2 linked regions of the Homo sapiens genome follow. The protein of the gene in region 1 purifies or fractionates together with the protein of each later gene. This does not show direct contact. Each region holds a gene or a part of one and is shown on either strand. Other genes may lie near its edges. The genes, in order: EXD2 and CLPX.

Evidence for each region.
Region 2: the proteins of EXD2 (region 1) and CLPX purify together in Homo sapiens (affinity purification with mass spectrometry; one large-scale study listed by BioGRID and IntAct). This does not show direct contact.

The regions. Positions count from the first base shown.
Region 1 is NC_000014.9:69,190,159-69,194,413, reverse strand, and holds the start of EXD2 (exonuclease 3'-5' domain-containing protein 2), read right to left. Parts: upstream 2,917-4,255; 5' UTR 2,823-2,916; intron 2,644-2,822; exon of another isoform or gene 2,375-2,643; intron 1-2,374. UniProt on the Homo sapiens protein: Exonuclease that has both 3'-5' exoribonuclease and exodeoxyribonuclease activities, depending on the divalent metal cation used as cofactor.
Region 2 is NC_000015.10:65,175,135-65,178,952, forward strand, and holds part of CLPX (ATP-dependent clpX-like chaperone, mitochondrial precursor), read right to left. Parts: coding exon 3,800-3,818; intron 1-3,799. UniProt on the Homo sapiens protein: ATP-dependent chaperone that functions as an unfoldase.

The sequences.
Region 1 (4,255 bases):
GTAATCCCAGCACTTTGGGAGGCCGAGGCAGGTGGATCACGAGGTCAGGAGATCGAGACCATCCTAGCAAACACGGTGAAACCCCATCTCTACTAAAAATACAAAAAATTAGCCAAGCGAGGTGGTGGGCGCCTGTAGTCCCAGCTACTTGGGAGGCTGAGGCAGGAGAATGGCATGAACTCGGGAGGCAGAGGTTGCAGTGAGCTGAGATCGCGCCACTGCACTCCAGCCTGGGCGACACAGCGAGACTCTGACTCAAAAAAAAAAAAAAGAATGGACTGACTGTTCGAGGTGACAGTATTTGGAAAACAACAATCACACACACACAATTCCAGAGGAATTAAAGAAAAAAAACTATTCCCACAAGAAGAACTTCAAGGAGAAAACAGAGCTTTAGGAGAAAACCCTCCTCTCTCTAAAAGTAGAGAAGGATTTTTCAACTTCAGCACAACTGACATTTTTGGCTGGTGAAATTCTTTGTTGTGGGAAGCTTTCCCGTGCGCTGTAGGATGTTTAGCAGCACCCTCGCTTTTACTCACTAGATAACCAATAGCAGCACCATCCTAGTGGAACAAACAAAAAATGTTTACAGACATTGCCAAATAACCCCGAGAGCAAAAATCTCTGCCATTTAAGAACCACTCGGATTGGGAATGATAGCCACAAAATACAAACACACACATAACAGACTGATAAATTAAAACCTAAAATTTTAAACTTTGTTTCAACAAAGATGCCATATAGTTAAAAGACAAGCAACAACTTAAAAAAGCAATAAGCAGGGAGTAAATATTATAAACACATATGAATAACAAAAGATCAAAATCCAGAACATATAAAATACTATTATAAATCAATAAGGAAAAGACAATCCAATAGAAAGAGATGTTTCTCAAAAGAGGAAATACAAATGGCTGACAATCATGAAGATGTTCAATCTCAATAGTAATCAGGGGAATGCAAATTAAAACAGCAAAGAGAAATCACTTTTCCATCCATCAGATTGGCAAAAACAAAAAAGATCGATACCATTAAATGATCAAAAGAGCATGGTGGGCCAGACACGGTGGCTCACGCCTGTAATCCCATCACTTCGGGAGGCCAAGGCAGGCGGATCACTCGAGTTTAGGAGTTTGAGACCAGCCTGGCAAATACGGTGAAACCCCGTCTCTACTAAAAATACAAAAATTAGCCAGGCGTGGTAGCGGGTGCCTGTAATACCAGCTACTCGGGAGGCTGAGGCAGGAGAATCGCTTGAACCTGGGAGGCAGAGGCTGCAGTGAGCTGAGATCACGCCACTGCACTCCAACCTGGGCAACAGAGCAAGACTCTGTCTCAAAAAAAAAAAAAAAAGAGAGAGAGAATGGAGGAAATTATTATCCACCGTGGGTGGCAGTTTGGCATTCCTAAATCCCCATACTCTCCCACCCAGCAATTCCACCTGCAGGTACCCATCCTTGAGAAATGCTCTCACATGGGCTCTCACAGAGGTGTGTGGGAAGGATGTTCTCCGCCATACTGTGTCTAACAATGAAAAACTGGAAACAATCTATGGAATCTTACATAACCATGGAATTTACAGAGCAAGTAGAAAGAATAGGTAGATCTCTAGGTACTGACAAAGAAAAAATTCCAAGACCCGTTTTTAAGCATAAAACGTCAAGTTGTGTAATGCATAAAACATGCATATTTGTAAAAGTTTAAAGCGAAATCTTACAAACATATATCTTATACGTACACATACTTGTCAAATAAATGCAAAGAAAAATACACACAAACTGACAACAGTTCTTATTTTGTGGGAAAGGGACTGGTAAAGAAGGTGGAGATGGAAAAAAACAAAATCAAAGAGGATCTGTCTTCCACACTCCCCACCCTCACCACCAAGAACATCAAGCTAAGAAAGATCTGTGTTTAAAATTTTTACATAATTTTGTTACAAGGCTTTATGCACGGACTATAACTAGAATATTTTAAAAATACATTTTTAAAACAAGCTCAACTTGACCAAATTTAATCCATCTTCCCCGCTGCGCCCCAACCCGCACTTCCTAATTCCTATGATTAACAAAACCTTTCAATTCCTTCTATCCTTGGAACAGAACTAAGAAAATAAAGTATAATTTCAATTTTGTGTTTTTGAGGAGAGGGTATATAAAGGAGTTTGAATGTTGGAATCATATCAAAAGCTTATCGGGGGATTGGTTTGTTTGTATTTTAAGGAGCAGATGTCAATTTTGTAATAAATAATGATTAAGGTTCTTAGTTTTGATCCATCCCAGGGATGTGAAAAGCCAAAGAGGTGGCTCCCGGCAAGGCCCAGAGCAGGGTGTGGTCTGGGAGGACAGGGATGGTAGCGAGGGTGGCGGCTCACACGAATCCAGGAGAGAAAACAGCAGCTGTTGCCGCGTCGAACCCGCAGCGCCCGAGGAGCTACCAGGTGCCGCGGGCGGGGCCTCCTTTTTAGCTGACTGGGACACGCAGCCTCGAAGGTCTGGTAGAGTCTCCCAGGGAGAGGGTAAGGGGGTCGAAAGGAGAGGCCCAAGGAGGGCGTGGGAGGCCGCGGGCAGGGGTGAGGCCCTCCTTGCGCACCTGGGTGCTGAACCGCCCCGCCGTGTGCGACGGGGGCGAGGGGGTCACGCCGAGGGGCGGGGAGAGGGGCAGGGCCAACTCGCTCCGGGACAGCGGGGGCCCCGCAATGTCACCCCCGTACACGGTAATATCCCCCCGCTCCACGACCCCTCTTAGTCTGCACTGGAAGCACCCCCTGCCCCGCGCACAATCCTGGTGCAAGGCTTCGCCGGCTTCTGAGCCTCACTTACCTGCTGTCTCGGACTGGGCCGCACACCTGCAGCGGGCTCACGTTAAAGACCTGGAACCTGTGCGGCCGCCTGCGCGCACCCACCCGGATTCACTAGGGCCGTAACCACTTCCGTTCCTGCGACAGGCCTGGAGGACGTAATCCCAGCTGGCGTGTGGGAACGGGCAACGCCATTTTGTACGGAAGCTACTGGGGCAGGTGATGCCTACCCAGTCTCTCTCCTCTGTTGAACAAAGGATCTGTTAAAATTGGAAGGGCTTAACGTCTTCTTCAGAAAAGTGACGCATTTGTTACTGGGATGGTATGTTTGTGTTTTGGTTTTGGCTTTGAAGGGAGAAACCTCCAGAACTCTCACAAATGTAATATGGGACATCGAATTTTCCTTCTTTAGTATCCTGCGTACTGTTTTTCTGCTAAACGATAACAGTAAATAGAAGGAAAGACACTGTATTTAAATAATGTAGTCTTCATTAGCAGTGCACATTATCCTATAGCCACTATAATAATTTTATGTACCCTCCTTTTTTTTTTTTTTTTTTTTTTTTGTAGATACTGTCTCCCTACATTGCCTAGGCTGGTCTCGAACTCCTGGGCTCAAGCGAACCTCACAACTCGGCCTCCCAAAGTGCTGGGATTACAGGCGTGAATGCCCAACCTATGCCATCTTTTATAGCGATAACCACAATACTTTTTGTTTATATATTAAATCGTTCATCCAATCAGTCTTTATTAGCAATTATATGTGAGGCAGTTAATCTGTGCTACATGCATGCTTTTCCTTTCTCATGGAATGTGTAAAACAGAAGGAGAAATGAGATGTGCATAAATAACCAATATAAGGTATAATAATAGCTACCATTTGTTGACTTTGTGCTCACCTGTTGCTAGGAACTTTGCAAAGCATTTTACTTATTTTTTCTCCTTTAATCCCCATAACAACCCTGTGAGGCAGTACTATTATTAGTGCCGTTTTACATAAAATAGAAAAAGGTTAAATAACTTCCTCAAGGTAATTCAGCAAGTAAGCACCGGAGTTAGGAATCAAACCTCATATTTCTGATTGCAGAGCATGTGGCCCCATCCTTTATACTATATTGCCTTCAATACAGGGGCAAATGTTTTAAATTCCATTGAATGAGTACCCATGGGGGAAATTTCCAGCTATTATAGAGGATTAACTCCCTGAATTTTTATCTGCTCCATCTTGAAACACTTAAAAAACAAAGGATAAAGAGGAAATGCAAATTAAAACCACAATGAGATATAGCTAAATGAAAAAGAAAATGTCAAGTATTGGCAAGATTGTGGAGCAACCACAACTCTCATATGCTCCTGAAGGGAACATAAATTGATGCAATCACTTTGTTTAACTGTTTGGCGGTATCAACTGAATCTGAATATGTGAAAAGACTTTGTTCCAACAATTTCACCCCT
Region 2 (3,818 bases), on another chromosome or scaffold:
AACTGACCAAAAAGCATATAAAAAGATGTTTACAAACTAGTATCCAAATAAATGCAGACTTAAAATGCAGGCCAGGCATGGTGGCTCACACCTGTAATGCCAGCACTTTGGGAGGCCAAGGCAGGTGAATCACCTGAGGTCAGGAATTCGAGACCAGCCTGGCCAACAAGGTGAAACCCCGTCTCTACTAAAAATACAAAAATTAGCCTGGCATGGTGGTGGGCACCTGTAATCCCAGCTACTTGGGAGGCTGCGGCTGAGGCACCTGAGGCTGGCACTTGAATCCAGGTGGCAGAAGTTGCAGTGAGCCAAGATCGCGCCACTGCACTCCAGCCTGGGTGAGAACAGTGAAACTCTGCCTCAGAAAAACAATAGAAACAAAAAACAAACAAAAAAACAGGCTGAGTTATCCCTTAACCAAAATGCACGGGACCAGAAGTGTTTCAGAGTTCAAATGTTTTCACGTTTTGGAATATTCACAGAAATACACTGGTTAAGCACCCCTACATGAAATCTGAAATCTGAAATGCTCCAATGGAGCATTTCCTTTAAGCGTCATGACGCACTCAAAAGGATTTCAGAGCATTTTGAATTCCAGATTTTCAGACTACGGATGCTCAACCTGTTAGTAACCTGAGATCAAATAAAACTCTCTTTAGGACTATGAAGACCCAACTTTTAATGATCAGACACAGAAGGATTCAAAAGGATGCATTCTGAAAAGACTTTTATTATGGGTACACAAAACTAAGGGAGGAGGGGCTCACTGCACTGCTAGGGCCTACAAATAGTTAGAGGACAGGGACAGTGTCATGATCATCTGCATATTTTCTGAGCCTAGTGATGTCTGAATCAACACATTTGCTATTAATTTTGCACATAAGTGTGTGCTCTTTTTTTCATTCTTTCCTTCTACATTTTCTACTCCCATATCACCACCCACAATTAGAATTCTCAAAGCAAACAGGCCTCAGCCTTGAATTGATTACACTAAAGTAGTGTTTCCACACTTGGTCTAACTAATAATATACATATACTACTAACATACAAATTCTAGGACTCCATCCCACATCTACAGAATCTTAATCTCTAGGGAAGGAGTTTGGGAATCTCTAAGTTTAACAGTCACCTTCAGTGACTAATACAACCTGGCAAGTTTTGGAAAGAATGCATAGAAGGAAAATAAATTTAATCCCAAGAGGAGCTAGTTTACTCCTAAAGTATCTCCAGATGGTAGAAATGTATGATATAGGAATTTCTGAATAGCAAATCTTCACTGCTATGTGACCTTGAATGAGTTACTTAAACTTGCTAAATCTCAGTTTATTTATAAAAAGGAGAATACTCTTTGTTCTGGCAAAATTAAGGGTGCAAGAATAAAACTATATATGTTGGCATTTATTAAATATTAGTTTCTTTCCTTTTCTACTCTAAGAAATTATTCTTTTTTCTTTTTTTTCTTTCTTTTTTTTTTTTTGGAGACGGAGTTTCACTCTTGTTTCCCAGGCTAGAGTGCAGTGGTGTGATCTCGGCTCACTGCAGCCTCCGCTTCCTAGGTTCAAGCAATTCTCCTGCCTCGGCTTCCTGAGTAGTTGGGATTACAGGTGCCCGCCACCACGCCCAGCTAATTTTGTATTTTTAGTAGAGACGGGGTTTCACCACGTTGGCCAGGCTGGTCTTGAACGCCTCACCTCTGGTGATCTGCCTACCTCAGCCTCCCATAGTGCTGGGATTACAGGTGTAAGCCACCGCGCCTGGCAACAAATTATTCTTTAGGTCTATAAAGGTTGAAATGTTTCTTTGAAGAAAAAAAAAGGAGGAAAATTTCTTGATTAAAATATAAGACACTGACCTTATAAATTGAACAATTTTCAGCCTCTGTATAATTTTATTATATCACATCAAATTTGTTTAGAAGGTTTTATCATCCAGTTCTACCTTTTTTTTTTGAGATGGAGTTTCACTCTGTCGCCCAGGCTGGAGAAGTGCAGTGGTGTGATTTTGGCTCACCATGACCTCCACCTCCCAGGTTCAAGAGATTCTCCTGTCTCAGCCTCCCGAACAGCTGGGACTTCAGATGCACGCCACCACGCCCGGCTAATTTTTGTATTTTTAGTAGAGATGGGGTTTCACCATATTGAGCAGGCTGGTCTCAAGCTCCTGACCTCAAGTGATCAGCCCGCCTCGGCCTCCCAAAGTCCTGTGATTACTGGTGTGAGCCACAGCGCCTGGCCCACTTTCATTTTATGTTGTGATCCAAATTAAATTTTGTTCAGAACCCCTAATATTCCAGCTATGGGATGGAGCTACTTTAAGTCTTTCCAGTACATAAAAACACACTACATCTAGTACCTTTTCATATGGTGGCCAATTATGGTTAATGGTAAGTGTGAAATTGTAACCAAAGTCTCAATATTAGGGTTAGGAGATAGAGAATACTCTCTAGCCAACCATCAGACACTGAAGTCTTACAATCTTGAAGCTTTCTTCAATTGGATTGTATAGGAAGGCTGACATGGTGGTACAATTCATTACCATTAACTCTAAATTATGTTAAGTAATGAGTTTTTTGATTATTTGATTCATTAATGAAAATATCTGTAGTAGAATCTTTGCATTTCAGAGAGTTACTGACACTAACAGCAAAAGTAGGATACATGATTTTTTTCCTTCTTTTTTTCTTTTTTTGAGACAGGTTCTTGCTTTGTCGCCGAGGCTGGAATTCAATGGCTGGCTCGCTGCTGCCTCACCTCCCAGGCTCAAGCGATCCTCCTACCTCAGCCCCTAAGTAGCTGGAACTATAGCCATGCACCACCATGCCTAGCTAATTTTATTTTTTTATACATATGGGGTTTTGCCATGTTGCTCAGGCTGGTTTTGAACTTCTGGGCTCAAGCACTCTGCCTACCTCAGCCTCTGAAAGTGCTGGGATTACAGGTGTGAGTCACTGTGCCCAGCCCTGATTTCTTCCTTCTCTGAGTGTCTGAATCATTAATAATTATCAGATGCTTCCCGGAATTGAGGGCTTACCTCCTTTGGTAAGTACTAAGGGAAATTACCTTAATATATGAATGACTGGCCTTCCCAGCCATGTGAGATATTCAATATGTATTTGAAGAAAGTAGTAATAAATACAGAATAAATAAGTCTTGGTTCTCCTATAGCCTAATGATCACATCCAGAAATTCACAAAATCTAATTTGAAATAAACACAAGTAAGCAAAATAAAGAAGCAAATGTTTTTCTTAAATTATCTCTTACACAACAGTGCAAAGTATTACCAGTCCTGAAGATTTTCTAGTATATAGTGAACATAAGAGAGAATCAGGTAAGCTCATACAATTTACATATAATTTATATAACATACAAAGTCACATACATTTATCTATTTCATATAATCCATATTTCTACACATTTAATACAATTTATATATATATATTTCTTTTTTTTGAGACAGGGTCTCTGTCACCCAGGATGGGGTACAGTGGCATGACCATGGCTCACTGCAGCCTCAACCTTCTTAAAAGAAGTAGCTAAGACCACAGGTATGCACCACCATACCTGGCTTTTTTTTTTTTTTTGGAAAGACAGGTGTCTCAACATGTTGCCCAGGCAGGTCTTGAACTCCTAGGCTCAAGGGATTCTCCCATCTCCTCCTTCCAAAGTGCTAGGATTATAGGCATAAGCCGTTTGCACCTGGCCTATATTTATACATTTTACATAATTTACATATTTTTATACACTTAGTAATTTACAGAAAATGTAGGGAAAAAAGAACAGTAGAAGATGTAATACTTACATACAAAGGTCTCTACATG